Homo sapiens: one gene and its partners. The protein of the gene in region 1 binds, or shares a complex with, the protein of each later gene. Each region holds a gene or a part of one and is shown in the gene's direction. Other genes may lie near its edges. The genes, in order: DDX39B, CHTOP, THOC5, SARNP, THOC1, PPP1R8 and AKAP17A.

Region 1 (4,115 bases):
CTAACCAGATTCTTTGAGCAGGGAGGCAGAATACAATAGAGAATGAGAGATGTTTGCATCCTGGCTGTAACCTCACCAGCCGTACTGCTTGAGATATGTTGCTTTGCTTCGCTTCTGTCAATAAGATGAGAATAACGGTACCTACTCCTTAGTATTAAATGATTAAGTATGTTAACAGGGAGAGGGCCAAACGTTTGTTGTTTTATTACACAGCAGGACATCAGGTCTTACTTTTGTAGCTCCCCATCTCAAAGACGGGGATAGCAAATGTTTCATTCAGGAAAAAAATCCAGGTTGAACAATGGGGCTGTTGGGGCGGGGCCAAGAACATTCTGCTCGAATTAACAGTATTAATGGGCCGGGCGCGGTGGCTCACGCCTGTAATCCCAGCACTCTGGGAGGCCGAAGTGGGTGGATCACCTGAGGTCATACATGGGTGAAGCCCCGTCTCTACTAAAAAAACAAAAATTTGCTGGGCGTGGTGGCGGGCGCCTGTAATCCTAGCTACTCGGGAGGCTGAGGCAGGAGAATCGCTTGAACCCGGGAAGCAGCGGTTGCAGTGAGCCGAGATCAGGACATTGCACTCCCGCCTGGGCGACAGGGCGAGACTCTGTCTCAAAACAAAAACAAAAACAGTATTAATGGAATGTAGTATAACCCTCAAGCCCTACTATTAACACTTGGGGCCGAATCCAGACCCCGTCTTCCCGCTCGGATTCAGAACACCTTCCTGACTCACTGGCCCTAGGGCATCAGCTACCTCGGACAGCATCCTTTTGGGAAAATACCGCCCACCAGCCCCACGACTGGGAAAGAGTCGGGAAACACCCCCGAGCAATCCAGTTCCCTGAGACTTCCCTCCTCCCTCCCCTCAGCTAGGGCCTGCCGGTTCCTAGTGCGTGCCCAGCAGTCCTCAGGTCACCTTCACTACCGGGCCAAGGACCCCGTGGGAACTCGCAGCCTTCGCCACACTCGTTCCTCGCGCATCCATGGAGGGGTGCCTACAGAGAAGACCTGCGTGGCAAAAACCTAAACGAAGAGATGAGGGGCATGGAGAGGAGTAGGATAAGAGAATAAAGATAACAGTGGGGGGGAGACGTTAGTTTCCTTTATATCTTTTGTTACTGGCGGTAGCAGTGAAGTTAGAAACGGTTTTAAAACAAATTTCAGACAGGCATTTTCCAAAGGCAAGCCTGGAGCGCACGGATCTGTATAACCGCGGAAGGCCCTGTTTCCGGTCCCTTGCGCCTGCGCTCTTGCAGCCAAGAAGGCGGGAGGCTGGAGTAGAGGGAAGCCTGCAACCGGAAGTGAAGGCAGATTTCCCTCCTTCGTCGCTGTTGCTGCCGCCATACGCGCTCTCCCTGTTTAGGTAAGCTTTGGCCTTCGCTACAATCCGTTTCCATCTGCGCTTCTCCGCACCCATCCCGTCACATGGGTTCCTGATACCCTTTTCACAGGCGATGGTCTGGTCGCTGGGGCCTAGTTGGTTCGCTATTTCCTTAGCTTGCATCCCTTTCGAGAGCAAAGAGCTCCTGGGGGAAGGAAGGGAAGCTAAGGGGGGACCCAATCCAAGATGGTGTCCTCGGCGCCATTGTGTTCGTTTTGCTCCCTTCTTCCAATGGGTTCTTCTCATATTGGAGGCCTCAGCATCAATGAGAGGCGGCGCTCGGCGTCCCTTGGTCTTGGTATTTGCGGAGGGCGGGGCTCTTCTCACCTTCCTTGTCCTTTCTTGAGCTCTTTCTCGGCCCTCGGTGGGACTGGGAGGAGGAGCTGGTTTCTGGGCCCAGTTGGATTTTTCTCACCTTGACTTGCCCAACTTAATTTGGAGTGCCTTCCAAGTGTTTACGATACGATTGGTGTCATTGTATGTTTCTCCAAAAGGAGTCTCACCTTCGTAGCGTAACAGTGATGTGAGACCACTTGGTAAAGATCCTGTTAAAGCCTGGGCGGGGATTGCCTTTCTCTGTCACCTATTAGCTTTCTTATTGTAGGGTGGAGACATGAATTTTGTTTTTTTGTGGCCGAGCCATTTGTCTTGCACCGCCCCTCCCCCCCATGCTAATTACACAAGGCTTGCTTAAACAGCGGAAGGGAGGATACTGAGAAGTGGGAGGCTGAGAGCTATGGGAGGTGGACGGCGGCCATATGATGTTTTCTTTTCGAAAGGTGAGCGCTTTGCGCAGTGATGACCCTCATCTATCACCCTTGACTGATGGCTGCTGAGTTAGGCATCCATAACGGTGGGATTATAATAGGGAAAGCGGAGTCTTCCTTTGAGGACTTTTCAGGACTCTACTTGTCATCTCCATTTTCCACTTTACTAAGTTATTAGTCGTATTTTACCTTTTATTATCTATTCTATTTCCTCACTGTTACTTTCAGATCAAGAATTTATAAGTTGGTCTTCCCCTTCCAACTTTTCTGGTTTCCGCTACTGTGATTGCTAATCTTGTTGGGAACCTCTGTCCTAACCACTTTCCCTGGTACTGCTTTTTCTGTTCTGTTATATTTGCTTTTCGTTTTTATGTTTTGTATCTGTTTTTCTTTCCAGGTAAAAGTTTCCTGGTTTAGGGAAAGTGGGAACTGGGGATGGAAAAGAGGTGGTGAAGGCTGTGCTCGTGATTAAGTCTTGCTTTTTTTTTTCCCCCCTCCAGCTCTTCTGTTAGAAATAGTATCTTTGTTTTCCTTTGCTGTTCCTCAATCCCCTACTCTTCACCCCTTGTTTTCACCTATTTTGCGAGAACCCATCCAGATCCCCCTTCCCTTCTTCCCCTGCCGGCCCAGTTATGGCAGAGAACGATGTGGACAATGAGCTCTTGGACTATGAAGATGATGAGGTGGAGACAGCAGCTGGGGGAGATGGGGCTGAGGCCCCTGCCAAGAAGGATGTCAAGGGCTCCTATGTCTCCATCCACAGCTCTGGCTTTCGTGACTTCCTGCTCAAGCCAGAGTTGCTCCGGGCCATTGTCGACTGTGGCTTTGAGCATCCGTCAGAAGGTAAATTTTCTCTTGGGCATGTAGTGCTCATTGGGCTCTTTAAGGGTACAATACAAAGATGTGTTTGTCGTTGCTCAGGTGGTGGTAAGGGTTTATACTTAAGGCTAGATCAGGGCCAGGTGCAGTGGCTCACGCCTGTAATCCCAGCACTTTGGGAGGCCGAGGCAGGAGGGTGGCCACTTGAGCTCAAAAGTGCAAGAGAAGCCTGGGCAACACAGCGAGACTCCTGTCTCTACAAAACGTTCAGAAATTAAGCAGGTGAAGGTTGAGGCTTCAGTGAGCCGTGATTGCACCACTGTGCACCAGCCGGGGCGACAGTGAGGAAGAAAAAATCAGGGGATAAGTATCAAAAACAATTTTGGATAGAGGAGGCTTATACAGGCTTATTCTTTCTTTCGTGATAGCACCAAAGTGCTAATGATCCAAAAGTGACTTCCAGGTCTGCCATTCATTCTTGTGACTGGCTTTTCTTGTCTGCTTATTTTTAATTTTGTCACTTGACTTCTAATTTTAAATTTCCAGAAAGGTCCTGCTTGGACCTGTAGTCTCCCTCTGTTGGGCCAGGCCAACTGTGGTCTCTGGAAACCTCTATGACTGGTTTAGAGATGACTGGCTTCTGGGTCAGGTACCAAGTCCTTCATTTTGTCCAGGGTTGTAGTAGTTACGTGACCCGAAGTATAGCAACCTAAGCAGGAGAAGTGGTCTGTGGCAGGTATTCAAATGTCATGAATTGTTACAGATTAAGAAAAATAAGGACAGAGCTAGGATCATTGAAGGTGAGCGGTTGGTAGATGCAAGGGGTTTGTTACTAGGACTGGGAAGGCCTAGATCTGGAGGAGGCTAAAGCTAGGAGGAATTAGGAGAGTCTGATTTTGAGGTGAATGTAATTGAGCAGAGAGAGGTAAAATGGGTCTGGAAGTTGGCAAGAACCAGGTAAATACTAGACTTTGAGAATTGAGTGGTAAGAAATGGGCTTGGCATGGTGAAAAAGGTAGAGTTATCTGGAGACTGAAGTCTAATTTATCTTCCTCCCCCCCCAACTTTTAGTCCAGCATGAGTGCATCCCTCAGGCCATTCTGGGAATGGATGTCCTGTGCCAGGCCAAGTCGGGCATGGGA
Region 2 (3,500 bases), on another chromosome or scaffold:
AATGTCATTCTTGGGCCTTGTAAGAGGCACTCGCTTTGCTCCATTTCACTTTCTTTCCATTCTGCTTTTAGTTTGGTTTTGTTTTGGATTCTTCTACAGTTAAGTGTTCTTCTCTTCCATTCCATTATACTTCCTTGACAGAAATAATGAGTCTCTTCACAGGCTCATAAATGATCAAACTGATGTAACTTTGAAAAGTAACTACTTGGAGTCAGAAAAAGTGATGATTGGAGACTAAGAAAAGTAAAGATATTCAAAGGCAGTTTCTATCTCTGACAACTTTGTTCATTAAGAGTGCCTTTGTTTAGGCGCGGTGGCTCATGCCTGTAATCCCAGCACTTTGGCAGGCTGAGGCGGGCGGATCACGAGGTCAGGAGTTTGAGATCAGCCTGCCCAACATGGTGAAACCCTGTCTCTACTAAAAATAGAAAAATTAGCTGGGCGTGGTGGCGTGTGCCTATAATCCCAGCTACTCAGGAGGCTGAGGTAGGAGAATCACTTGAACCCGTGAGGCGAAGGTTGCAGTGAGCCAAGATCCTGCCACTGCACTCCAGCCAGGGCAACAGAGGACAGAGTGAGGCTCCGTTTCAAAAAAAAGAATGCCTTTGATCAGTGATTTCATTAAGTTGACTTTCGACCACTGAAATTTACTTAATGTCTATTTTTGCCTCTTCTGAGGCATATGTGCTTCTCTCCTTATCTCTTTGGCTATGATAAGCTAATTATTTATGTTTGCATAATATTTATGTTTGCATGTTAGTGACATATATTTTAAAATGTGATACACTCCTGTAATTTATGAGAGTATGTTCATTGCTGTGAGCTTTGAAGGTGCTCTAATCCTTCCTCATATTTGGCCTTAGAATGCACCTCGGATCCCCCAAGGTTTAGGCTTTCTTCATTTGTCTTTGAAACTATATCTTCTGTCTCTTGTCATATCTGCTTATTGCGTGTTTTTCATACCTTCCACCTCTCTAAAAGCCGTTACCTGAGCCCTCGTTATCACTTTTGGTTGAATGTGCTGCACTTAGCTGCATTTCTAAGTTTCTGATTCTTGCAAGTTTGTGGAAACAGAGGAGTCTTTAACCCACATCAGCCTTGATCTAAGTGTACCACTTTACTTAAAAGTTCGTGGGATCTGGAGCTCCTGGTCTAGCAAGCCATGAAAATGCCAATAAATGTTTGTAATAAAGCTTTTATTTAAACATCCATTTTGTTCGACCTTGAAGCTTTACTAATATGCTGAAGAACAAACAGCCGACGCCAGTGAATATTCGGGCTTCGATGCAGCAACAACAGCAGCTAGCCAGTGCCAGAAACAGAAGACTGGCCCAGCAGATGGAGAATAGACCCTCTGTCCAGGCAGCATTAAAACTTAAGCAGGTGAGAGAATGGGTCTTAATGCTCCAGAAGCAGCTGGTGATCTCTGTGAGGGAGTCCACTGAGGCTGTCAGGACGTGATGGATGATTGCAAAGTGGCTCAGGGCAAAAAGCTGAAACTTCTCTGGAAGAAAGAGAAGTTCAGAGAATTCCAATTTTGGCAGGTACCAATAAGTAACTTTTTACTGTCTTTCTCTTTTAGGGAGTTTGCCATCTATGTGGCCTGTTTCTGTTACCAATGAGTATTAATCTTTTGTTTTCTGATCCTTAACCCTTAACATAGATTAATGGCTTATTCCACAAAGAAACTTTATTTCAGCTTTAGATAATCTCACAGCATCCTTTACTCTCTGTTAAATGATTTACCCAACAGGGAAATAATTTTATTCTTTTTCCCATAGTGCAGGGAGTTTGCATGGCCTTAGTCAAAGGTTTTCTTTTTTTTTTTTTTTTTAGACGGAGTCTTGCTCTGTCGCCCAGGCTGGAGTGCAGTGGCACGATCTCGGCTCACTGCAAGCTCCGCCTCCCGGGTCCATACCATTCTCCTGCCTCAGCCTCCCGAACAGCTGGGACTAAAGGTGCCCGCCACCACACCCAGCTAATTTTTTTGTATATTTAATAGAGACAGGGTTTCACCATACTAGCCAGGATGGTCTCGATCTCCTGACCTCGTGATCCACCCGCCTCGGCCTCCCAAAGTGCTGGGATTACAGGCTTGAGCCACCGCGCCCAGCAGTCAAAGGTTTTCAATGCTAAAATATACAGAGTAGAGTGACCCTCATTTCCACAGCACCTAAAGTTTTACCAGTAAAGTGGAGCAAGAATACTGAGTAATTTGAGTTAGGGGTTCTCTTTTTCAAATTTACAGTGAGAGATAATCCTATTCAGACCTGAAATAAAACCTGCTCTTTATTATTCATAGAATTTATATGCAAGTCCGGACAGTGGCTGTGGAAGGATATGTCCAAGCTGTGGCTGGGCGTCTGGAGGGCAGTGCCATGCAACTGTAAGGGCTTTGGTAGCATTGCATGGCTATGCATAAATTCAGCAGTTAAATATAACACCCTTACACCCCCACCCTGAACCATTGGGCTCACTGACCAAAAATAAACAAGGGTGTCTGCTTCGGCTACCTTAAGCCTTGGAGTGACTGGATTCCTCCCTGACTCAGGAAAGCAGCAAAAGGCACCATTTTCCAAGAGTAAATGGAAGTTGCTGAAGATGAATCTCTGACAGATCATTCCAAAGGACCTTTCAACAAGAAGCTTTAAGTATAGGCTCTGCAGGAAGTAGTCCCTATCCAGAGTAGTACTATTAAATAGAATTTTTTTATGTTTTTGGTTTGGTTTGGTTTGGTTTGTTTTGAGACGGAGTCTTGCTCTGTCACCCAGGCTGTAGTGCAGTGGTGCAATCTCAACTCACTGCAGCCTCCGCCTCCCGGGTTCAAGCGATTCTCCTGTCTCAGCTACAGGCGCCCGCCACCACACCCGGCTAATTTTTGTATTTTTAGTAGAGACGGAGTTTTGTCATGTTGGCCAGACTGGTCTTGAACTCCTGACCTCAAGTGATCTGCCTGCCTCAGTATCCCAAAGTGTTCAGATTACAGGCATGAGCTACCGTGCCCAGCCAGAACTTTCTACAATGATGGAAATGTTCTGTATTTGCTCTCCGGTACAGTAGCCACTAGTCACATGTGGCTATTGAAAACTTTAAATGTGACTAGTGCAATTAAGGAGCTTAATTTTTTTTAATTTAATTTTAGGCCAGGCCTGTAATCCCAGCACTCTGGGAGGCCAAGGCAGGCGGATCACTTGAGGTCAGGAGTTTGAGACTAGCCTGGCCAATGTGGCAAAACCCCATCTCTACTAAAAAAAAAAAAAAGCCGGGCATGGTGGCGCATACCTGTAATCCCAGCTACTCAAGAGGCTAAGGAGAATCTCTTGAACCCAGGAAGTGGAGGTTGCGGTGAGTGGAGTTGGCACCACTGCATTCCAGCTTGGGTGACAGTGAGACTCTGTCTCAAGAAAATAAGTAAAATTTGCTTTTAATTTAGGCTGGGTATGGTGGCTCACACTTGTAATCCCAGCACTTTGGGAGGCCTGGGCAGGTGGATCACCTGA
Region 3 (3,500 bases), on another chromosome or scaffold:
CTCTGTCTCCCAGGCTGGAGTGCAATGGCGCAATCCTGGCTCACCGCAACCTCTGCCTCCTGGGTTCGAGCGATTCTCCTGCCTCAGCCTCCTAAGTAGCTGGGATTACAGGCATGCGTCACCACGCCCAGCTAATTTTTAGTAGAGACGGGGTTTCACCTTGTTGATCAGGCTGGTCTCGAACTCCTGACCTCAGGTAATCCACCTGCCTTGGCCTCCCAAGGTGCTGGGATTACAGGGGTGAGCCACCGCGCCTGGCAGAATTTCTTTTCTTTTATACATATAAATCACTATGCATGCAACGGTTTAAGCCTCTAGATCTTTTTCCATCCAGTTCTCCCATGCTGGATCTTCCTCATTCTGTTCTTACGCGGCTAATGTCTTGAACTTAAGTGCAGACCCTTGTATTTATTCCTGTTAAATTATGTCTTGCTTTCAACCCTACAGCCTAGGCCCAGGCTGTAGTGTTTTTACTTGACTTTTTAGCTAGTAGTTCTCCTGCTCAGCTTGGAGACATTTGTAAATTTGATAAGAATCCCTTCCGAGTCTTTAATTCATGGGTAAAAAGGTTGGACAGCATGGATAAGGATCCTATGGCATGTCACCAACTACCTTTCTTCACACTGAAATATCTGCTAATGAGCATTTGTGGAGAAGACTGGATTCCAGGATCCTGTAGACCAGGACTAAGCAGGCATATGTTGGGGATAACTTTGGGCCTGCTTAAACTACAGTTTAGTTTCCTGAGAACAGCAGCTTGATGTCATGTTTTTGTCTGTAGGTCAAAGCATGAAGAAATTGATCTGGTCAGTTTAGAGGAGTTTTATAAGGAGGCTCCACCAGATATCAGCAAGGCCGAAGTCACCATGGGAGACCCTCACCAGCAAACACTGGCACGTCTGGACTGGGAGCTGGAGCAGCGGAAAAGGTAGCATTTCCTCCTTCCTGACCTTTTAACCACAAAGTGTCAGTGCTTTGTCATGACCCAGGATAAGGCAGCAAAACACTGTGCAACTCTCAGAATAGTTTCTAAGACCAAATCCCATTTTATGATTAAATCACACTGGATAGTTTAAACTTCACCAACCTCATCATGGATGGGGTTGGGGTTATAATTGCTTAAGGGTTTTTTTTTTTTTTTTTTTTTTGAGATGGAGTCTCACTCTGTCTCCCAGGCTGGAGTGCGGTGGTGTGATCTCAGTTCACTGCAACCTCTGCCTCCCAGGTTCAAGTGATTCTCAGTCCTCAGCCTCCCGAGTAGCTGGGTGGTAGGTGTGCACCACCACGCCCATCTATTATTTGTATTTTTTGTAGAGATGGGGTTTCACCATGTTGGCTAGGCTGATCTCAAACTCCTGACCTCAAGTGATCTGCCTGCCTTGGCTTCCCAAAGTGCTGGGATTACAGACGTGAGCCACTGTGCCTGGCCCTTTTTTTTTTTTTTTTTTTTTTTTTTCCAAAGAGATGGCGTTTCACTCTATTGCTCAGGATGGAGTGCTGTGGCACTATCACGACTCACTTCAGCCTTGACCTCCTGGGCTCAAGCGATCCTTCTGCCTCAGCCTCCCAAGTAGCCAGGACTATGGGTGCCTGCCACCATGCCTGGCTAATATTTTTATTTTTGTAGAGCAGGGTTCTCACTCTGTTACCCAGGCTGGTCTTGAATTCCTGGCTTCAAGTGATCCTCCCACCTTGGCCTCCCAAAGTGCTGGGATTACAGGTGTGAGTTACCATGCCTGGTCTCTCCTTGAAATTTTAATGCCGAAGACCTTATCTTTTGTACCATAAATCTAATTTTGTATTTGCCTTTCCCCTTATCTGTAAGTGTATGCCTATGGCAGAAAGCTTTGTAAACACTATTTCAGGAGGTTGTGCAACATTCTAGTGTATATTCTGGTGTATAGAAAAATGCACAAAATTATTCCCCTGTTGGATTTTAGGTTGTTTCCATTTTTTGCTGTCATAAATAATGCTTCAGCCAGGCGAGGTGGCTCACGTCTGTAATCCCAGCACTTTGGGAGGCCAAGGCAGGCGGATCACAAGGTCAGGAGATCGAGACCATCCTGGCTAACATGGTGAAACCCCGTCTCTACTAAAAATATAAAAAATTAGCCGGGCATGGTGGCGGGTGCCTGTAGTCCCAGCTACTCAGGAGGCTGAGGCAGGAGAATGGCGTGAAGCCGGGAGGCAGAGGTTGCAGTGAGCCGAGATTGCGCCACTGCACTCTAGCCTGGGCGACAGAATGAGACTCCGTCTCAAAAAATAAATAAATAAATAATGCTTCAAGTCACACTTTAGGTATAAACTTTTCTATATGAATAAAGAGGTTTATTTATTTATTTATCTATTTATTTATTTATTTTTTTGACACAGAGTTTCACTCTTGTCGCCCAGGCTGGAATGCAATGGTGTGATCTCGGCTTGCTGCAACCTCCACCTCCCTGGTTCAACCAATTCTCCTGCCTCAGCCTCCTGAGAAGCTGGGACTACAAGGCGTGTGCCACCACGCCCAGCTAATTTTTGTATTTTTAGTAGAAGCGGGGTTTCACCATGTTGGCCAGGATGGTCTCTACCTCTTGACCTCGTGATTCACCTGCCTCGGCTTCCCAAAGTGTTGGGATTACAGGCGTGAGCCACTGTGCCCGGCCAATTTTTGTATTTTTAATAGAGTTGGGGGTTTCACCTCCGCCTCCCCAGTTTAAGCGATTCTCCTGTCTCAGCCTCCTGAGTAGCTGGGATTACAGGCGCATGTCACTGTGCCCAGCTAATTTTTGTATTTTAGTAGAGACGGGTTTCACCATGTTGGCCAGGCTGGTCTCGAACTCTTGACCTCAGGTGATCCGCCTGCCTGGGCCTCCCAAAGTGCTGGAATTACAGGCATGAGCCACCATTCCCGGCCGAGTCTGGTTCTTAGGAAATTTGTGTCAGTGTCTTAGCAGATGGGGCTGACCTGTCACTCCGCTGTCCAGTCCACTGATTGTGCTGGGCACTGACTCAGCCATCAGTGCTGCATTCTTGTGGCACTGGTCCAGAATCTGTTCCCACCCTGTGCTAACCAGGCCAGTCCATGGGCCTCTTTTGGGTTATATAGCTGCTAAGTCCATGTTTGTGAAAGTTTTAGGTCTTACCTCTCAAGCAAGAAATGGAGCAGAAGATGGCATGTGTATTCCCTAGTGGTTACAGAGCAGACAGAGCCTCTGGAGAGCAAGAGACATGGATCCAAAGCCTAGCGCAGTGTTTGTTCTTAGCTGGATGCCCTTGGGCAAGTTATCTACTTGCCTGAGCCTTGGTTTCCTCCTTTGGGGATAAGCAAAGTCCCTGTCTTCCAGGGTCTTTATAAGTATTAAATGTAATTATGCTTTTAAAGAGCTCACCAAAGTACCTGGCACACATTGAGTGCTGGATAAACATTGGCAGTTAATCATGGCTGCTACTATTAGGTGGAGTCTGACAGTGAACAGGCATGTTGAGGTATCACTGGGGGATATCAGGTGACAATG
Region 4 (3,500 bases), on another chromosome or scaffold:
ACATTAGCTAATGCATCTACCTAATTCTATGGTGGTTAGACCTGTATGCATGTATATGGTAGATTGTAATAACGGATCTGGGATAATAAGTGGTAAGGAGAATCTGCTTTTAGATCATTGGATTTTCTACTTGAAGGTTCATTCTTCCAATATGCTGGCTGCCACAGTAGTCTTAAGAAAAAAACCTTTTTCCCCCCTCAGAATATTTAGAAATAACTAGAGATTTGTGACAGTTAGTAGGTATACAAATAGATGAGGTTTTTTATTAAAGTGTGATGTTTATTCTTCAGCATCTGTTAGGCAGTTCCTCTTGTATATTGAATATCGTTAGAGGAAAATGGATCATCTTTGTGGACCTAGAGCCTTGGTAGAATTAAGGGCAGTAATTTGGGATGGAACTTCATTTTCTTTTTTTCTTTTCCTTGTGGGAACTACCATTTTATTCACTGGTGTTCATCCTGTTAACTAAGGAAAAGTTTTATTTTTTTCCCCTCAGCTTGCCGAACTAAAGCAAGAATGTCTTGCTCGTGGTTTGGAGACCAAGGGAATAAAGCAAGATCTTATCCACAGACTCCAGGCATATCTTGAAGAACATGGTGAGTACTTTGTGGAGGCGGAGTGATGTGAGTGAGGGGATTTTCAGGCTTTGACACTGAAAAGATTTCTTTTTTTTTTTTCAGGTCATTAGCAATGTAAGCTCTTAATTAACGGCATCAAGAAAACTCTCTCTTTTTTTTTTTTGAGATGGAGTCTTGCTCTGTTGCCCAGGCTGGAGTGCAGTGACGCAGTTTCAGCTCATTGCAACCTCTGTCTCCCGGCTTCAACCAATTCTCCTGTCTCAGCCTCCCAAGCAGCTGGGACTACAGGCGAGCACCACCATGCCTGGCTGATTTTTGTATTTTTAGTAGAGACGGGGTTTCACCATATTGGTTGGGCTGGTCTAGAATTCCTGACCTCAGGTGAGCCACCCGCCTCAGCCTCCCAAAGTGCTGGGATTACAGTTGTGAGCCACCGCGCCCAGCCATCTTGTACAACCTACATCTTAGGTTGTACAAGTCCTCTATCTAATTTTTATTTACGTATTCCCTTTTATTTCTATTCCTCATTTCACTTTCTCCCCAACCCATTTAGGCACCCGTTCTAATGTGTTTGAATGTATTTTTTTGGTGTTTTTCCTGGTAAACTATGTAGTGTTGTTTTGTAGAATGTTTTCATTTATATAATTGGTAATTACATAACTGGCCATAGCCTTGCTTTATTTCTCATTTTTTTCACTAAGTATTGTGTTTTTTTTTTTTTAAAGATGCGTCCATGTGGAATGTGACTGTGTAGTTATCTAGTCTGTTGATTCTAATTCCTGCATAGCATTCAATGATGGATAACCACACATTTTACTTAATTCACTCGGTGACAGAAAATTTTATTGCCACCAAGCCTCTGCTACTATAAGTGATACTACTTATAGTATACTATATGTATATAATAGTATATAGTATATATTATACTATGGGTTGAGTGTTATATATTTGAAATGCTTGGGACTAGAAGTGTTTCAGATTTTAGTTTTTTCGGATTTTGGAATATTTGTGTATATATATAATGAGATATCTTGGGGGTGAGATCCAAGCCTAAACACAAAATTTATTTGTTTCTTATCCACATATCTGAAAGTAGTTTTATACAGTATTTAAAATAATTTTGTACATGAAACAAAGTTTTGACTGTGACCCATTGCATGAGGTTAGGTGTGGGGTTTTCCACTTGTATCATATCAGCCTTCAGAAAGTTTTAGATTTAGGAGCATTTTAGGTTTTGAATTTTCAGATTGGTGATGCTTAACCTGTAGGATATAGTATACTATATCCTATATACTAATAGTATATAGTATATTATTATGAACTACTTATTTTATGCTCTTATGTTCCTGTGAAAGTCTTTTTGGGGTATATGCCCAAGAATGGTATTGCTAATTAATATTCATAAATATATACTTAATGTGACTAAGGACTCCCAAATTATTTTCCAGAATTGCTCTGTAGATCTGCAGTCTCATTACTAGTACATAAGGGTTCTTGTATCTTCACAAACCTAAACTTGGCACTGTCCTATCAAGTGGCCTAAGTTTTGCTAATTTGTTGGCTGTTTTATGTTCTCCATGAAAAAAGTTTAAACATTTCACAATTCTTTGGGTTTCTTCTTTGCCCATTTTTCTGTTGAGGTTCCCATAATTTGCCTGTTGGCTTGCAGGCATTTCTTTTATATTCTAATAACTATTGTTTTGTTGATTTTAGGCACAAATATCTTCTTTGGCTGTGCGGGGTGGTTCATGCCTGTAACTCAGCACTTTGGGAGGCTAAGGTGGTATGATCTCTTGAGGCCCGGAGTTTGAGACCAGTCTGGGCAGCATAGTGAGATCCCATCTCTAAGAAAAATAATAAAATTAGCTGGGTGTGGTGATGTGCACCTGTAGTCCTACCTACTTGGGAGGCTAAGGCAGGAGGATCCCTTGAGCCCAGGAGGGGGAGGCTGCAGGGAGCTGTGATTGTGCCATTGCACTTTATCTGGGCGACAGAGTAAGACTCTGTCTCAACAAAAACAAATGTCTTGTCATTTGTCTTTTAAGTTTCTTTGTGCTATCCTTAAGTAGAAGTACTTAGTTTTGAAAAATCTTCAATTTTTCACCTCTTACTTTTGGTTCTGGGTTGTTTTTCTTTTAAACAAATCTTTCCCCACCACTAAATCTCAAAGATACTTTTCCACATACTTTTTTTGTTTGTTATTCAAGACTGGGTCTTGCTCTGTCACCCAGGCTGGAGTGCAGTGACATGATCTCAGCTCACTGCAGCCTCTGCCTTCTGGGTTCAAGTAATGTTCCCACTTCAGCCTCCCCAGTAGCTAAGACTATAGGCGCACACCCCCACACCCAGCTAATTTTTTTATGTTTTTTGTAAAGACGGGGTTTCGCTGTGTTCCCCAAGCTGGTCGCTTGAACTCCTAGGTTCAAACGATCCACCTGCCTCTGCCTCCCAGATTGCTGGGATTACAGAGAGCCACGGTGCCTGGCCCAACATTACTTTTAAAATTAATTCTCTAGTTTGACTTCACATTTAGTTCTTCAGTCCAACTGGAGTTCACATTTGTAATTAATGTTAGGTAGAAATCTGGTTTTATCTTCTCCAGATGTAGCAGATTTTATGTGCATCAGTTTCTGCCTTCACTGTTGGATTTTTTGGGGGAAAGCAAAGTGATTATAATTTTAACCTTGGTAAGTGATCAAGATGGTTTTGTAGCAGGGCTTGACCTGAATATTTTAATATTCTTTAGCTGAAGAGGAGGCAAATGAAGAAGATGTACTGGGAGATGAAACAGAGGTGAGTTGGATAGAGTAAGGTTAGTCTCTGGTAATGTGCCACTGCTTTGGCCACATTGCTTTAACATCAGTCATTGGAGGACTTAGATGTAAATTTATTAGGGGAGCATAAGATGGGTATGAAGGTTCT
Region 5 (3,500 bases), on another chromosome or scaffold:
AGCTATCTTGTTGAAACAGAAGTCCTCAAGTCATGGCTCTGGGCCAGATCTAACCTACTGCTTATAAACAAAGGTTTATTGGAATAGTACCATGACCATCCACTTACCTGTGGCTGTTTTTGCACTATAATGGCACAGCTGAGTAGTTGCAACTGAGATTATAAAGGCCACAAAGCCTGAAATACTTACTCTCTGGTCCTTTACAGAAAAAGTTTGCCAATCCTGTTTTAGAAGAATTTGTTATATTTTTCTTGGCTACTTAAAGATCAGTTGTCCTTTTTTGTCATAATTAAAATCTAAGATAAATAGGTAGTTCTCAGAATAGCATGGTGTGTGTTATGTTATTTTTAATAGTTTTTGTTTTATATGCAATTTTTTGTGGGGGCAGCACCATCCAAATTCAGATTAAGTGGTTAGTGAGAAATAATCTGGAATTGTCTTCTAACTGGACAGAATTTGGTGGAATTTATTTGCTCAGTTTTTAGCACAAGAAATGCGTAAGAGTTTCCACAGGTGGTTAAACAATTTCACTGGTAAATTTCTGTACACTCTTAAAAATGTTCCCTAATCTATTTGTCCCTTACACAGACTTCTTAAATCATATTTCTTCGTTTTTTTTTTTTTTTTTTTTGAGACGGAGCCTCCCAGGTTCAAGGGATTCTTCAGCCTCAGTCTCCTGAGTAGCTGGGACTACAGGTGCCCGCCACCACACCTGGCTAATTTTTGTATTTTTAGTCGAGACGGGGTTTCACCATGTTGGCCAGGCTGGTCTCAAACTCCTGATCTCAAGTTACCCGCCCCCCTCCGCCTCCCGAAGTGCTGGGATTACAGGCGTGAGCCACCACCACTGGCCAAGAAATTATATTTCTTTAGGAGTAGGGAGCTTGTACCTACTTTTGCAACAAGTGAAATATCATACAAAATAGTTTTAACTCCCATTCTGCTATCATAATTTGTATTGTTAGTGTGCCTTGCAATATACAGTCTACATACATGATTGACTGGGAGTAAATTCTAGGCATTTTGATGCAGAAAAGCACTAAACAAATTTGGGTAACAATGTCGAATAAAACTAATATTTTTATTTTGCAGTATTCTGAAGAAGTTTTAGCTGTTTTTAAGAGTTATAAATTAGATGATACTCAGGCCTCAAGAAAAAAGATGGAAGAATTGAAAACAGGAGGAGAACATGTATATTTTGCAAAATTTTTAACAAGTGAAAAGGTATAAGTTTTTCTTTTTCATTAAGCATAATAAGAAATGGTCTTGTTTTATTTCCGTTTAGCTGACAGCCTTTCTAAGTTAAACTGAATAGAAATGTTTCTTATTTTACTTTGGGTTAAAGCTGATTGATTAATGTTAGTTTGAAAGTCCCATTTCTTCCTTTCAGAAGTAGGACTAATTTGGTTTCAAAGGTGAAAGTAGTTCTACATTAAGTCTGTTTTGTAAACTAATTTTGGAATAAATGCAGTTTAATTACTTTCATGTCTATATATTTTAAATGTCAAGTTAGGATTTAATTTGTATATGAAAATATTTCATAATTATTATTTAGGTGCAAGTAAGGGGTTTAAAAGTTCCTTGTTAATCTTATTTATACATTTTAAAAAGTAAATTTTATTCAAATATAATGCTACAAGATTATGTAAAGTTTCTAGTCAAGATGGCACATTGAGTTTATGTTTCGACTCACTCCCTTTGCTCCAAACACATAGCAATGACGGGTAAAATATAAACGAGAAAACAAAAGAGACAAGGCTGGGCTTCCAGAAACAAGATAAATATCTTCATGGACCAGAAATGCCAAGTAGTGAGCAAAACTGCAGCCTGGGCCTGCTGGACTCTCTATCCAAGGCAGGTGGTGGTGTCCAGGAATTTGGCTACAAGTAACAGAGACTAAATGTGCACCATGTGGGACAAGGGGCCAGAGCCAGATTCACTTCTTGAAGCCAAGGACTAGGGTGGAACTTTTATCCAGTTTTGGGAAGAAACTAAGAAAAAATATTGCCAGTCTTCTGCCAAGGGCTATGGTTTTATAGGAAGTTGTGAGCCTAGGGATAACAAAGACAGCTTTGTGTCCATCTGCTTGCTCAGTGACCAGATATGTGATATGCTCAGTATACTTATGAAACAGCTGCTCCAAGAAGTCATCATAAGACTTCTTCTAGACTTTTGGACTCAGGGGCCCTGGTAGAAGCAGATGCAAAACTGCTAGACAGGGAAGGATGTACACAGAGAGGGAGGGGAAAGGAAGTAAACAAACATCCCAAAAGAAAAGGCTCCTGTTCAAAACTCTGATAAATTAAAATTCCAAAATCCATAAATCTAATGCTAAGAAGGATCACCAGCAAAATCAACTATTGGGATATATATATATATTTATTCCAGATGAAATATATAGCCTGACCAAGACTTTATGTATGTTTTGGATACTCAAAAAGATAATCGATGAGATAACATCCATTGAAAAGGAACAAGAAATCATGAAACAAAAGCAGGCTGAAATGAAGTAGGACAGTCGATACAACTAATCGGGAGTCTTGGGAATGAAAAATACAATAATTGAAACCAAAACTCAGCACACAGAATTAAACTATACACTGGACATAGATGAACAAAGAACTAGTGAACTGAAGAAGGTGATGAGAACTTCATCCAGCAAGCAGCACAGACAGATTTTTTTTTTTTAAGTGGAAGAGCAGTTAAAAGCCATGGTGAATAGATTGGGAATTTCCAACATCTGTCTAGTAGGATTTCCAAAGAAGAAAATGGAGGGAATGGTAGAGAAACTGGATTGCAAAGAATTGAAGGAAATCTCAAATCCTCAGCTTAAAAGTGTGTCACAACTGCCAAGCAGGATAAAGAAAGATAAATCTACTCTTCATTACATCATGCCATAACTGTGGGCATTCAGAGAAAACCTAAAAGCCACTAAGGGATAAGAAAGACAAATATACTGGGAAGGCACAGCAGTTTGACTGTTAGCAGATTTCTAACATATCAACCATTAATACCAGAAGACAGTAGAGAAATATTAAAGTGCTGAAAGAAAAATGACATTCAATCTAGAATTTTATACCGAGTTAAATATACTCAAGACTGTCGATGAAAGAAAGACATTTTTATTTAAAGACCAGGATAACTTACCACTCAGTGACCCTCATTTTGAAAAAAACTACTCAAGGATGTTCTTCAGGAGGAAGGAAATTGAACCCATAAGAATGGAGTGGGATACAGAAGGCAACGGTGAGCACAAAAATTGAAAAATATGACAGTAAATTTACTATTGACTATAAACACAAAAAAGTCATGAATGATTTAAAATTTTTTTAATTAAAAAATTTTATTAACGTGGAACTTAACTAGATGACAGTAATAATATGGAAGGGGAAAGCAGAGATGTTTAGTGAGTAATTTAAAATTATGGCAGTCCTTGTAATCTTCAGGAGTAGGAAAGGAATACTGAATATTCCTTTTCATGTATATTAAAAGGGTAACCA
Region 6 (3,500 bases), on another chromosome or scaffold:
CACATGATGGATGTGGTGGACCCAGTGCCATTTTCATTTTTTAAAAAGCTGGAGTTTCTGACCATGATCCTGACTATGGCATTTTTAAAATAAATTAAAAACAGACAAAAAAGCAAAACTGATGTGCTGGGGGGAAGCTGACCTGATAAGAGAGTTGGCGATCATACTCTTCCTTCTAAAACTCAGGTTGTTTTTGTTTTCCCCCTTACGTTTCTGATTTGGTTATTCCCAGCACACGGCACTTTCTTGGGTCACATTCGGTTGGAACCTCACAAGCCTCAGCAAATTCCCATCGATTCCACGGTCTCATTTGGCGCATCCACAAGGGCATACACTCTGCGCGAGAAGCCTCAGACATTGCCATCGGCTGTGAAAGGAGATGAGAAGATGGGTGGAGAGGATGATGAACTCAAGGGCTTACTGGGGCTTCCAGAGGAGGAAACTGAGCTTGATGTAATTCCCTGTTTATGTCATTGTTTTGTCTTTGGGGACCCTGGTTTTTGGAGTATACAGCTGTTCTATGTAGCTGGAAATGCCAGTGACTTAGCAGCAGGGGGTTCTCTTGAGTCCAGTAATGGGCCTTTGGCAATCTGGTGTGGCCAGCTGTGACAGCTCTCGGAGAGCCACATTGTATGGATTTGGTTGTGTATCACCAGGCCTAACAAGGAGGCTGAGTCCCAGCCACTAGTCTCCTTGAGCTGTTTTGTGCACCTTCACTGGCTGTTAGAAGCTAAGACTGGAAGCTACATTTCTCTGTCCCTTGACTGCTTAGAGCTAATGCTGTCCAATATGGTAGCCACTAACAATATTTCAAGTATTATGTAGTCACATATGGCTAGTGGCTGCTATGTTGGCTAGTGCAAAGAGAGAATGTTTTCATCCTCACAGAAAGTTCTGTCAGACAGCACTGGCTTAGAGAGACTGACATTTTCATTCATTCATGTAGCTTTTTTTGGTGCTATCTGAACAGTCCAGGAATCTTCTGAATAGAGCCAGACTGCTTTTGTTCTTCCATGGGCCTCGCTGTCCTGAGGGCCATGAATTTTATAAGATTTAATTTTAAGGTGCTAGAAGTTTTCCTTTTTTGAAACTGACCCCAGTAGTTTGGTGTGGCTATAGTCCTTTACATAGCTGTCACTGCACTGGTGTGATTGGTCTGTTCAAATAGACCAAATGCAATCATGTCCTTAACCACCCACCTGCATTTACTATTCCTGTACACCAAGGCAGTTTCCTGGCTCTTAGGAAGAAAAGCACGATAGAAATTGTACAACTTAGGCCGGGCACAGTGGCTCATGTTTGTAACCCCAGCACTTCGGGAGGCCGAGGTGGGCGGATCACCTGAGGTCAGGAGTTCGAGACCAGCCTGGCCAACATGGAGAAACCCCATCTCTACTAAAAATACAAAAAATTAGCTGGGTGTGGTGGTGCATGCCTGTAATCCCAGCTACTCAGGAGGCTGAGGCAGGAGAGTCACTTGCACCTGGGAGGTGGAGGTTGTGGTGAGCCAAGATCGCGCAGTTGCACTCCAGCCTGGGCAACAAGAGCGAAACTCCGTCTCAAAAAAAAAAAAAAAAAAGAGAAATTTTACAATTAAGAAGTCGTTTTGTTTTGAAGAAGTGGCTTCATAGCCAGGGACCTTGCTGTTGCCCATTTCCCCTTTAGGCCACCTTATCCAGGCTGCTGCTATACTTCCATGGCTTTTAGTTCAGTATGTTAGGTACTCCCTGGATCTTCATTCTTAAGACATTTAGAATATCTCAAACTTGTGGTTTGTACCAGAAAGGAATAATTTCAGTGGATTGGGAAGAGGCAAGCAACAGAGCTAAGGCCAAGTTAATTATTGAGATAGTTATGAATAGAATTGGGGCCAGACACAGGATGGGGCATGACAAAATATTAACGCCAAAAATTAAGTGCACTAGCAGTGTCCTTAATTTTGAAGGAGAAAGCTACTAGGAAGGAAGCAGCCAGTTGTCCTTTTTCATCTCAATTTTGTTACTTAAAAACAATTCTTGGCGTTCCTTCCAGCCACATTTCCTTTTAATTCTCAGCTTATTGTGGGCATGAAGACATGATAGCCTTTCTTCAGCAACAACAAAAAACACAACTCAAGGATATTTGCACAGATGACCTGTTCTCAGCTCAAGGCCCTTTACCTCTTGAATATCACTGCCCCACTAGTCAATGAGGATGTTCCACATTCTTTCTAATGAGACTTGAGACTTGTTAGTATTCGTAGTCTCGGGACAGTATGAATCTTCTCTAAATGCAGAAGTGTCTCAACTCCCTTTGGAGGTCAAGATTAGCCCCTCATGCCTTCCTCACCTTTATTTAGTATGATTTTCTCCATCAGATTCCCTTTGTACTGACTGCTGTCTTTCCTGTATGAACCCTGGCTTAGAACCTGACAGAGTTCAACACTGCCCACAACAAGCGGATTTCTACCCTTACCATTGAGGAGGGAAATCTGGACATTCAAAGACCAAAGAGGAAGAGGAAGAACTCACGGGTGACATTCAGTGAGGATGATGAGATCATCAACCCAGGTGAGGTATCTTGCTAGTTTATTCTGATGAAAAAGCTGTGGTTGGCCCGGGCGCGGTGGCTCACGCCTGTAGTCCTAGCACTTTGGGAGGCCGAGGAGGGTGGATCACTTAAGGTCAAGAGTTCAAGACTAGCCTGGCCAACAAGGTGAAACCCCATCTCTATTAAAAAAAATACAAAAATTAGCTGGGCATGGTGGTGTTCGCCTGTAGTCCCAGCTACTTGGGAGGTTAAGGCAGGAGAATTGCTTGAACCCAGGAGGCAGAAGCTGCAGTGAGCCGGGATTGTGCCATTGCACTCCTGCCTAGGTGACAAAAAAAAAAGAAAGAAAAAGCTGTGGTTGGTCAGGCATAGTGGCTCATGCCTATAATCCCAGCACTTTGGAAGGTTGAAGTTGGTGGATTGCTTGAGGCCAGGATTTCAAGACCAGGGTGGCCAACATGGCAGAACCCTGTCTCTACAAAAAATAAAAAAATCAGCCAGGCATGGTGGCACACACCTGCAGTCCCAGCTACTCAGGAAGCTGAGGCAGGAGAATCGCTTAAACCTGGGAGGCAGAGGTTGCAGTGAGCCGAGGTTGTGCCACTGCACTCCCACCTGGGTGACAGAGTGAGACTGTCTCCAAAAAAGAGTTTCCAGGGTTGGACCTAGAAATTTATATGTTTTTTAATTTTTCTTTTTTGTGTGTGTGTGAGACACGATCTCATTCTGTCGCCCAGGCTAGAGTGCAGTGGCACAGTCACGGCTCACTACAGCCTTGACCACCCAGGCTCAGGTGATCCTCCCACCTCAACCTCCTGAGTATCTGGGACAACAGGTGCACGTCACCACGCTCAGCTAATTGTCATATGTTTTGTAGAAATGGGGTTTCATCATGTTGCCCAGGCTGGTCTTGACCTCCTGGGCTTAAGCGATCCTCCTGCCTCAGTCTCCCAAAGCACTGGGATTACAGG
Region 7 (3,500 bases), on another chromosome or scaffold:
TTTTTTTATTTTTTTTATTTTTATTTTTTTTTCGAGGCAGAGTCTCGATCTGTTTCCTGGACTGGAGTGCAGTGGCGCAATCTTTGCTCAGTGCATCCTCCGCCTCCTGGGTTCGAGCGATTCTTCTGCCTCAGCCTCCCGAGTAGCTGGGACTACAGGCGCGTGCCATCACACCTGGCTAATTTTTGTATTTTTAGTAGAAACAGGGTTTTGCCGTATTGGCCAGGCTGGTCTCGAACTCCTGACCTCATGAACTGCCTGCCTCGCCCTCCCAAAGTGCTGGGATTACAGGCGTGAGCCACTGCGCTCAGCCTAGCCTCGTGTTTTGACCGTGTTGGCTTCACAGTGACAAATGAGCCAGCCTCCTGGAGGGGGTTTTGTGGCCTTAAGATGTGCCCTGTGGGTGTGGGCAGGCGGCCTGCTCAGTGACTGTGGCCACAGGGAATGGTGGAGCCGGGTAGCGGAAGGGGAGCTGTGTCTCGCAGCGGTGGCGTGTCACTTGTGTTCAGTAAGTGGCGAGGGCTAGTTGGTGTTCCTCGCTGAGTCGTAACTCCGTGGGATGAGCTAAGTCTTGAGCCACTGATGGTGACTTGAAGGGATTGGTTTGGCTTCTGGGCTCCACTGTCTGGGTCTGCACCGGACATGAGTGGTGAGCGGTGAGCGGTGAGCGGGCGCTCAGGCTCTGAGGCCACTCGGCCCTACGGCCCAGGAGAGGGCGCCTGGCCGTGTGTCTGGGGGGTTTTGGGGGAAGGCCATCTGACACTGTTTTTGCTTTTAAAGGTTTCTTTTGATTCGACCAAACACCTGAGTGATGCCTCAATTAAGAAGCGGCAGCTGGAGAGGCAGAAGCTTCAGGAACTGGAGCAGCAAAGAGAAGAACAAAAGCGCAGAGAGAAGGAAGCGGAGGAGAGGCAGCGAGCGGAGGAAAGGTACCTTCTGCGGGAGCGGGCCCTCGGCGCTGGTGTCCGGCACCTGGGAGTGTGCGCAGACCCGTGTGCGTGTGTCTGCATGTATTCCTGTGCGTGTGTGTGTGCATGCATGCTTGTGAGCTTGTGTGTGTACCTGTGTGCATGGACGCACGTGTGCCTGTGAACCGGTGTGTGTACTTTGTATGTCCCTATGTGCGCCCGAGTGTGTGCCTGAGCATCTGTGTGCACGTGTGCCTGTGTGTGCGTGCATGTGTGTGAGCTCGTGTGTGTACCTGTGTGTGTATGTGCACGTGTGCCCACATGTGTGTGCTTCTGTATCGGCACATAGCACACATGTGCCTGTGTGCATGCGTGTGTGCCTGTGAACCCGTGTGTGTACTTGTGTGTGCACGTATGGGTGTGTGTGCAGGCCTGTGGGTGCTCAGCTGTGCACGTGAGGACCTGCGTGAGTGGCTGTTTGAGACGCAGCAGAATATGAATGTTTCTCTTTTTCTTGTCACACGTCGTGGTCTGACACGATCTCTGCCGGCTCCCAGGACCGCGCCTTGCCCGAAGAGCCACCTCTTCTCCCTCCACATGCTGTTCACACCTCCCGCTGAAACAAGCAGAATGCCTTGGCTGTTTGCAAGTTTGCATTTAGGTTGAGGCTACATTTACAAAATGAAGTAGAGGGTTGATGGTGATGGCCAGATTTAAAAAAAAAAAAAAAAACAAAAAACCAATGATAGGACAAAAACCCGGTTTCACATAAGAGGCCTTTAAAGCAATTGCCTGGGTCGTTCACTGTGGTTGGGGTACCAGAGACAACCTCAGGTCACTCTTTGTAGCCCCTTTTATCTTCTTAGCATTGCAGGAGGGAACCAACAACTTTCTGTGAATCCCCTGAGGCGGAATCCTCCTCCTCCTCCTCCTCCTCCATCCCTCCCACCCTCCTAGTGAGGTGGATTCCTCCTCCTCCTCCTCCATCCCTCCCACCCTCCTAGTGAGGCGGAATCCTCCTCTTCCTCCTCCATCCCTCCCACCCTCCTAGTGAGGTGGATTCCTCCTCCTCCTCCTCCATCCCTCCCACCCTCCTAGTGAGGTGGATTCCTCCTCCTCCTCCTCCATCCCTCCCACCCTCCTAGTGAGGTGGATTCCTCCTCCTCCTCCTCCATCCCTCCCACCCTCCTAGTGAGGTGGATTCCTCCTCCTCCTTCTCCGTCCCTCCCACCCTCCTAGTGAGGTGGATTCCTCCTCCTCCTCCTCTTCCTCCTCCATCCCTCCCGCTGTGCCCTCCTAGTGAGGCGGATTCGTCCTCTTCCTCCTCCATCCCTCCTGCCGTGTCCTCCTAGTGAGGTGGATTCCTCCTCCTCCTTCTCCGTCCCTCCCACCCTCCTAGTGAGGCGGAATCCTCCTCCTCCTACTCCTCTTCGTCCTCCGTCCCTCCCGCTGTGTCCTCTGACGACTTTGGTGCGTCCTGCACGTCTGTTGCGCTTCATGTCGCCGATATCAAGTCTGGGACGTGTTGGACTTGGCTGGGGGGCTCCTGGACAGCCTCTGGTGGGACCGAGTTGGTCCGTTTTGTTTCCATTTCTCACTGCTTTATGTGACGCTGGTGCCAGCGTGTTGATGTGTGTGGCTGGTGATGTTTGCACGAGAGTCCCGGCACTGAACTCCTGGGAGCAGGTCCATCCTGCCCGTGGTGTTCTTTACGTAGCCCCCGTTGCCTCCCCAGGGGAGAGTCGGGTTGTCAGCCTCTGAATCTGAACCCCGAGGGCTCCTTAGGTGAGGCAGGTGCAGTGTGTAAGCGAGTGGCCGTGAATGTGCTGGGGGGGCCCATGTCAGCCGTCAGGATTCCCAGGACCTAAGGCAGGCAGCACAGAGAGGCAGACGCCCTGGGAGGGAGGGACATGCTGCTGCGTCGCCATCCTGGGAGGCGGTCCCTGGGAGGGGCGGTTCGGATGTGGGGTTGAGTCCGGGTCCCCTGTGTCAGCCACTGTCAGGCCGAGCAGGACAGCTGGGGTGGGAGACAGTCCTGGGGCGTTACAGGGACTCTTCCAGGCTGCAGACACAGCCCAGGCCTGGCTGAATGTGCCTGTCCACATTCTGGAAGTGTGGAGTGGGACTCAGAGCCTCGGACCTCTCGGTGTCGCAGGAGTGTCCCCGCAACATTTCAGAAAGCAGCTTGCGGGTGCGGAGAAGAAGCTGCATCCTTGATCTTTCCCTGAGGAGAGATGGACGTTGGAGTAGTGGAGTGTGTCTCTGCAGGGAAGGGACCCCGTCTGCCTGGCCAGACCACAGAGGGATTGGGGGAAGCGGGGCCGGGCCATGAGGTTCTCGAGAGCAGGATGGGGTGTCCAGAGCCCCGGGGAGGGGCAGGCCTGTTGTCTGGGGGAGCTGGCCAGGAGGGCTCCACACGCAGGGCCGTACTTGTCCCCGCTGTCCCCCACTGTCCTTCCTCAGAGGCTGAGCATGAGGGGAGGCCCAGGGCAGCCTCCTGCATTTCTTTCTGGTGGGTGGAGATGAGGCATGTTTGCTTGTTCAGCCCTCACGTGTAACTTTGAGCTTGATGAGAGCTGTCCTCTGAAAGCT

What was found.
Region 2: DDX39B (region 1) and CHTOP share a complex: the UniProt entries of both Homo sapiens proteins name them as parts of the transcription/export (TREX) complex.
Region 3: DDX39B (region 1) and THOC5 share a complex: the UniProt entries of both Homo sapiens proteins name them as parts of the transcription/export (TREX) complex.
Region 4: DDX39B (region 1) and SARNP share a complex: the UniProt entries of both Homo sapiens proteins name them as parts of the transcription/export (TREX) complex.
Region 5: DDX39B (region 1) and THOC1 share a complex: the UniProt entries of both Homo sapiens proteins name them as parts of the transcription/export (TREX) complex.
Region 6: DDX39B (region 1) and PPP1R8 share a complex: the UniProt entries of both Homo sapiens proteins name them as parts of the spliceosome.
Region 7: DDX39B (region 1) and AKAP17A share a complex: the UniProt entries of both Homo sapiens proteins name them as parts of the spliceosome.

What each region holds. Positions count from the first base shown.
Region 1 is NC_000006.12:31,539,204-31,543,318, reverse strand, and holds the start of DDX39B (spliceosome RNA helicase DDX39B), read left to right. Parts: upstream 1-1,315; 5' UTR 1,316-1,369; intron 1,370-2,140; exon of another isoform or gene 2,141-2,218; intron 2,219-2,654; 5' UTR 2,655-2,786; coding exon 2,787-2,997; intron 2,998-4,044; coding exon 4,045-4,115. UniProt on the Homo sapiens protein: Involved in nuclear export of spliced and unspliced mRNA. Component of the TREX complex which is thought to couple mRNA transcription, processing and nuclear export, and specifically associates with spliced mRNA and not with unspliced pre-mRNA.
Region 2 is NC_000001.11:153,637,066-153,640,565, forward strand, and holds part of CHTOP (chromatin target of PRMT1 protein), read left to right. Parts: intron 1-1,229; coding exon 1,230-1,383; intron 1,384-3,500. UniProt on the Homo sapiens protein: Plays an important role in the ligand-dependent activation of estrogen receptor target genes. May play a role in the silencing of fetal globin genes.
Region 3 is NC_000022.11:29,536,758-29,540,257, reverse strand, and holds part of THOC5 (THO complex subunit 5), read left to right. Parts: intron 1-781; coding exon 782-928; intron 929-3,500. UniProt on the Homo sapiens protein: Component of the THO subcomplex of the TREX complex which is thought to couple mRNA transcription, processing and nuclear export, and which specifically associates with spliced mRNA and not with unspliced pre-mRNA.
Region 4 is NC_000012.12:55,800,725-55,804,224, reverse strand, and holds part of SARNP (SAP domain-containing ribonucleoprotein), read left to right. Parts: intron 1-496; coding exon 497-596; intron 597-3,324; coding exon 3,325-3,371; intron 3,372-3,500. UniProt on the Homo sapiens protein: Binds both single-stranded and double-stranded DNA with higher affinity for the single-stranded form. Specifically binds to scaffold/matrix attachment region DNA. Also binds single-stranded RNA. Enhances RNA unwinding activity of DDX39A.
Region 5 is NC_000018.10:244,048-247,547, reverse strand, and holds part of THOC1 (THO complex subunit 1), read left to right. Parts: intron 1-1,092; coding exon 1,093-1,224; intron 1,225-1,715; coding exon of another isoform or gene 1,716-1,721; exon of another isoform or gene 1,722-3,246; intron 3,247-3,500. UniProt on the Homo sapiens protein: Component of the THO subcomplex of the TREX complex which is thought to couple mRNA transcription, processing and nuclear export, and which specifically associates with spliced mRNA and not with unspliced pre-mRNA.
Region 6 is NC_000001.11:27,840,782-27,844,281, forward strand, and holds part of PPP1R8 (nuclear inhibitor of protein phosphatase 1), read left to right. Parts: intron 1-232; coding exon 233-453; intron 454-2,404; coding exon 2,405-2,549; intron 2,550-3,500. UniProt on the Homo sapiens protein: Inhibitor subunit of the major nuclear protein phosphatase-1 (PP-1). It has RNA-binding activity but does not cleave RNA and may target PP-1 to RNA-associated substrates. May also be involved in pre-mRNA splicing.
Region 7 is NC_000023.11:1,594,604-1,598,103, forward strand, and holds part of AKAP17A (A-kinase anchor protein 17A), read left to right. Parts: intron 1-780; coding exon 781-929; intron 930-3,500. UniProt on the Homo sapiens protein: Splice factor regulating alternative splice site selection for certain mRNA precursors. Mediates regulation of pre-mRNA splicing in a PKA-dependent manner.